2 separate regions of the Homo sapiens genome follow, and region 1 is linked to region 2. The links come from fine-mapping of genetic effects on gene expression. A gene starts in region 2. The other region holds a variant in brackets. All regions are shown on one strand. Distances are from middle to middle.

Region 1 (2,915 bases), 250 kb after region 2:
AAGTTCATGCCTAGCCTAGCCAACATACAGAGACCCCCATCTCAATTTTTAAAAAGGGAAAGGGGGATAGTGCATAGGAACAGGAATCTTGTTTTAATCCTTGTTTTACTACTACAGATATCTAATAATTCAAGGATACTTACATATTTGGAAGTCTTGTATACCACTGTGTAAAGTTGTTTTACTATGTTTTACCATTTACGGGGATTTATCCTCTCCTATACTATTCCCATTTCAGCCCATCATTGAGGAAAATTTTACCTTGAGAACATCAGACTCCTCTTCAAAACCTTCAATAACCACTAATTACCTAAGCAACTGGCACTAAACTCAAATATTCAGTGGCATCCAAGGTCCTATCGTCATTCTTGTCATTTCTCTCACCACCACAGCTCCAGTCAACACGGGAATAATGACTCTATGCCAGAACACCTTGCAATGTGCTACCGCTAAGCTTGAGTTAAACGATTCCCTTACCTGGACTGCAGCCACTACGCCATCATGATTTGTCATTGTTCTATTCATCAAATGCCCATCTCAAATCTACCCCTCCATGAAGCCTTACCTAATACTTCAGTTTATATAATTTCTTCCTCCTTTGAGCCATCCAGCACTTTTTCAGCTTCCTTTATATTTCTATTACTCAGTTTTAATGATATGATTTACTATTATCTCCACAGCACCTAGTACATCGCCCTGCACTCAGCAGAGGCTCAATAGAATTTGAATTCAACCCTAAATTTATCCTTCCTTAGAGTGCCATAACCACAGAATCTAAGGAGGTTCCATCCAAAAGGTCACCATCTCTTCCCATTATTTCCATGGCAGTCATCACCACAGTGACTAACAGGGAATTTCTGACTCGTCCTCCATAAGCACAAATTCCATTACTTATTTGACTTCTCCATCTTGGATTAATCCCCCAAACCCTATCCCATTCCTTCAGGACTTTAGTGCTGTACTTAGCTCAGTGACACACTCAACTTTACTTCTGGCATAAATATTAGAATTTTAATAACCGCAGAGATGACCCTTCTAAAATTCAGGCTTCTCCAGTCCTTGTATTCCTTTCCTCCAATGTTCTCATCTTCTTTCCTATTTTAGACAAACACGCCCCACCGGGACCTACAATCGCTAATGCTACCACTTTTCACAGTCCCTCATCCTTTTCATGCCCTCATTTCTGTCCTTATCCAACCGAAATTACGTGATCCATCATTTATCATTCATACCAGCAACTGCTTCTCTTTCCTTCTCCTAGCAAAACTCTAACCCTGTTAAATCCAAGCCTCTTGGCCACACCACATCATTAACCATGTACCATTAAATATAACTAAGAAAAAAAAGTATCACATAATCATGCTAATTAGTCTTTTTCATGACCATTAGCCTCAAAAGGCCCAATAATCAATAG[T/A]TCTAAAGGGATGTGAAAATGTGAAGTCAAGTTTTTTTAGTTGTAAGAATGACTAGGTAGGTAATCCTGGCATTTGGGACCCTGGAATGCAAAATATCCTGCCGTGTCCAAGATCTGTCCCACCTAAAATGCAAGTAGGAGCCTCAATGAAAAAGTTAAATGTTCATTCACTTCCTCACTCTCCTAATGATTTTCTCACACTTCTCTTGTCTCTTCAAACATCTATACTCTTACCTCTTCATATTCAACAGGTCACCCTGCTTCCTACTTCATGCAAATTGCCAACCTTGCTGCATCATTAACCATATATTCTTCCTTCCTGTTATTATAAATGAACTGTCCCCATTCCTATCTAATGCAAATTCCTGAACTCAAACTCTACTGGATCCCACCTCCTTTTGCCTACTTGGGATGTCACTCAGTAATCATCCCCTCTTCTCTCTTTCCTCTCCTGTATCATCCATTTTACCCATTCTACTGAGTCATTTCTATCAGCATTCCCACATGTTGTAATAGCACCCATCAATAAAAATAAAAAGGGAAAAAACATTAAAAACCATCCTTGACCTCTTGCTTTGCTACAGCTACTAGCCCAATTCTCTGCTCTCATTCTAGAGCATAACTGAGTTTACACTTTGGGTTTTTATTTCCTCTCCTTCCATTCTCTCTTAAAACCATCCCAATCAGCCTCTCATCCCAATGCTCCATCAAAACAGCTCTTGTCAAGGTCCCCTAGGATTTCCATGGTATTTAATGCTGTGAATAATTCTCAGTCCTCCTCTTAGTTGACTTCTCAGCAACAGTTGACACAGTTGACTGTTCCCTACACTTTACTCCCCTTGGCTTCCATCTAAGACACCACTCTCTTAGTTCTCCTCCTACTTTATAAATTACTCCCTTGTATCCTTTTCTTCTTTATCTCCACAACCTCTAAACGCTGAAGTGCCTCAAGACTCAGCCCTCAGACTTCATCTCTTCTCTATCTTACCTTCAACATTCCCTTGGCAATGTTATCTAGGTTTGAGACTTTAAATACCATCTATATACTGAGGATCTCCCAAATTCATATGGACCTGAGTTCCAAATTCACATTCAAATAAATAATCAACACATCCACTTGGATGTTTAATAAGCATCTTAAACCTAATGCATCAAAAACAAAAAACAAAACAAAACAAAACAAAAAACCACACAAGTTTGCTCCTCCTGGTCTTCCCTCCCTCAAGAGAAGGCAACTACTTCATCCCTTTAATTGTTCATGCCAAAAACTTGAAAGTCATCCCTGACTCCTTTCTTCCTCCCACATCTCACATCTGATCCATCATTAAATCCTGTTACCTATACCTTACAACACTATCTAAAATCTGACTATTGGGAAGTCCTAGCTAAAATAATCAGACAAGAGAATGAAATAAGGAGCATTCAAATTGGAAAGAAGCCAAATTATCCTTATTTGCAGATAATATGATCTCATATTTGCAAAAACCTGAAAACTGCACCA
Region 2 (2,915 bases):
ATTGTATTAGACAAATCACAGAGGGATTGCAACAGAACACAGATTTTTCTCACTGTTTTTTCTCTGGTTGATCGGGATGCATTATCCACCAGAAAACACTGTAGACGACTCACTCACCAGGAAAAGAGCATATGCCAGTTGGAATAAATAAAGGGGAAGAGTAAGGAAGAGGCTGTAGAATTATTTTATAAATTATCAAGTCTTATGAGCCAGGTGCAGTGGTGCATGCCTATGTACAGTCCCAGCTACTCAGGAGGCTGAGGTGGTAGGATAGCTTGAGCCCAGGAGTTCGAGGGTGGAGTGTGATATGATCGTCTGTGAATAGCCACAGCACTGCATCCTGGACAAGATAGGGTCTCTTTAAAAATAAGACTTAACTAGCACTTTAATAATCATTGTTTTTGTTCCCAACTGCATTGTACATTCATTGAGGACAGGGACTTTAAACTTCATTATATTGCTGTTGCTGTGTTTCACCTTTGAATGATTTTTAAATAAAAATCTCATCTTTGAGTCACAATCTGATGTAACCTTGTCCATTTCTGTCCTCTTGTGTGCCTTAAATGCCTTTAGGCAGCTGTGTTGTACCAGTGGTTTTAGGACTTGGCAGTCGGAAGTTTTGACTTCTAGACTGGATTCTGTAACTAAAGCTAAATTACTTTATAAAAGGAGAAAAATGGTACCATTCTGACGGGTTTGTGGTGAAGCTGAAATGAGATAGCCACATAAAGAACCATCACAATCCCTGACACACCGTGCGCCCTCAGTAAATGCCAGGTGAATTTTATTACACTGTGAAGTACTGATTTTCAAACAGGACTTGCACATGAAAGGTGAGCAGGGGGATTCCTTGCTCAAGCACCAGTACTCTGGGGTTGTACCCTTTGTTAGGCTCAACAGGTACTACCCAGTCCGCTTCCATCGTCCCCAGTCCCGGCTGCAGTCACGTAGTTGGCTGTCCAACTCCAAATACACAAGACAGCCCAGGTCCAGCTCACAGCCAGTGCACTTCGCGCAGGCGCACAGTCCTGAGGCGGGCTGAAAGCCCAGGTGGGGCTCGGAGAAGAGGAAGCTCCGCCTCGCTTCCCGGTATTGGGCCAATAGGGTCGCTCGTCATGGTCGCAGACCTATGAGACGGGGCAGGGGGCGGGGCGGAGGGCGGAAGAAGTCGCTCTCACGTGAGTAAAGGGGTGGGGGGGCGGGGACAGGGCGGTTTGGGAGGCCCAGGCGGCGGAGCCTCCGGGACGGCGAGCGGCGGGCGGCGGAGGAGGAGACGGCAGGTCGGGTAGGGCCGTGTTTCCCCTCCTCCTCCTCCCACCCTCCTACCTACCAACCCCAGGGGTATTTTCCGACGGCCCCTGCGGGGAGCCAAGCTGTCTTCTCATCCCGCGGGGTCGGGCCAGTGGAGCTGCTCTCAGCTCCCTCGACGGGCCGAGTTCTGAGGGGAGCCGTGATTGGGGGGAGGGGGAACTGCGACGGAGGGGAGAGGGCGCATGCGCAGGCTGGGCCGCTCTGGGAGCCCCTGCCCAAACCGGTTCCCCCTGTCTGTGTGGGTGCCGGTCTTCTGAGTCTTGCGTTTTTGGCCCTCCCTCTGGTCCCCCAGCAAAGCCGGTTTGTGTCTTGACTTTAATGTTTTATGCTTGGTCCTATTTGGGAATCCAGCCGCTCCCCCCCGCCTCAGTTTCTCCCCATTGCTCACTAGGCCTGTATCTGTGACTTAAGCTAGCCTGGGCCTCAGGCTGTCCTGGGCTGCGCCTAAATTTCAAAGACTTGCTAGTTTTCACTGTCGCTTTGCCATCTCAGGTTGGTCTTTCAGTCTCATTTCCCCGTCTGCAATTAAAGCGTTCTTGGCATCCCAGTCTTCTCATCTCCTTGAAGCAGCTACCCCAGTACCTCATCGCTGTGTCTTTTGATTATCCGCACCCTTAGGGTTTTACGTGTTGAGCCAAAGGATAACCTCAAGACTTCCAGGAGTTCGCTGTCCATTGCCTGGTAGTACTTTGGTCTCTGCTCTTCTGCATCCAGACTGTTTATCATCTGCTCCTGCGTTTCACGCATCTGCATACCTTTGGTTACTCGAGAATTCTTTTTTGGAAACAAATGTCCTAGGAGACCGTGTTAAGTGATCATGCTGCTAGTGTTCCCGCTACTAGTGCTCCGTTAGTTTTAAATCATGTTCCAACTTGAATTTGAGGTCTTTTGACTTTCGTTGGCTTTTTGTCAGGGAAAAAAACCTGTTAGGGACAGGGTTTCACAATTCCTTTTATATTTCCATTCACATGTATTTACAAACGTGTGCCTGGAGTAGTAAGTACACAATAAGTGAGTTTCCAGCTGTTTTTGTTTCGGAAACAAAAAACAAAACAAAACAAAACAAAAAAACAACGGAAGGTGAATGGAATTGTGTTTGTAACATTAAACTGATGTTTGAAAAGTAGTTGGGAAAAAAAGCTTAGGTACTAAGGAGGGTTCATCCAACTTTTTTTTAAACGAAGGACGTGTTGCCTTAGTTCAAGTTTGTATAAGGTGCTATTTAATATGTATTGAAGACTTAACTAGAGCTTACTTATGAAAACTGAAAATAGGGGCCGGGTGCGTTCACGCCTGTGATCCAGCATTTTAGGAGGTTGAGGCGGGTGGATCACAAGGTCAGGAGTTCGAGACCAGCCTGTCCAATATGGTGAAACCAGGTCTCTACTGAAAATACAAAAATTAGACGGGCGTAGTGGCAGGCGCCTGTAGTCCCAGCTAATCGGGAGGCTGAGGCAACAGAATCGCTTGAACCCGGGAGGCAGAGGTTGCAGTGGGCCGATATTGTGCCATTGCACTCCAGTCTGAGCAACAGAGCGAGACTCCGTCTCAAAAAAAAAAAAAAAAAAACACAAAAAAACAAAATAGGGAAGAGAAGTCTTTAT

The links. PIP is the estimated chance that this variant, and not a neighbour inherited with it, causes the effect.
Region 1: its variant is the best candidate, but not a certain one, in a credible set for the expression of RABGAP1 in lung (TOPMed, PIP 0.55).

The regions. Positions count from the first base shown.
Region 1 is chr9:123,192,548-123,195,462 of GRCh38, forward strand. The region is part of intron 2 of STRBP (spermatid perinuclear RNA binding protein); the gene reads right to left. Among named protein-coding and RNA genes, the nearest start is that of STRBP, 75 kb to the right of the region's middle. The variant T/A (reference allele first, on the strand shown) is at 1,415.
Region 2 is chr9:122,939,809-122,942,723 of GRCh38, forward strand. It overlaps RABGAP1 (RAB GTPase activating protein 1), which reads left to right and starts at 1,212. Exons shown (of 26, transcript NM_012197.4): 1 at 1,212-1,285. LOC105379839 (a long non-coding RNA gene) reads right to left here and starts at 1,440. Exons shown (of 2, transcript XR_001746924.3): 1 at 1,331-1,440; 2 at 768-1,127. RefSeq lists enhancers at 752-821, 1,011-1,735 and silencers at 982-1,141, 1,152-1,481.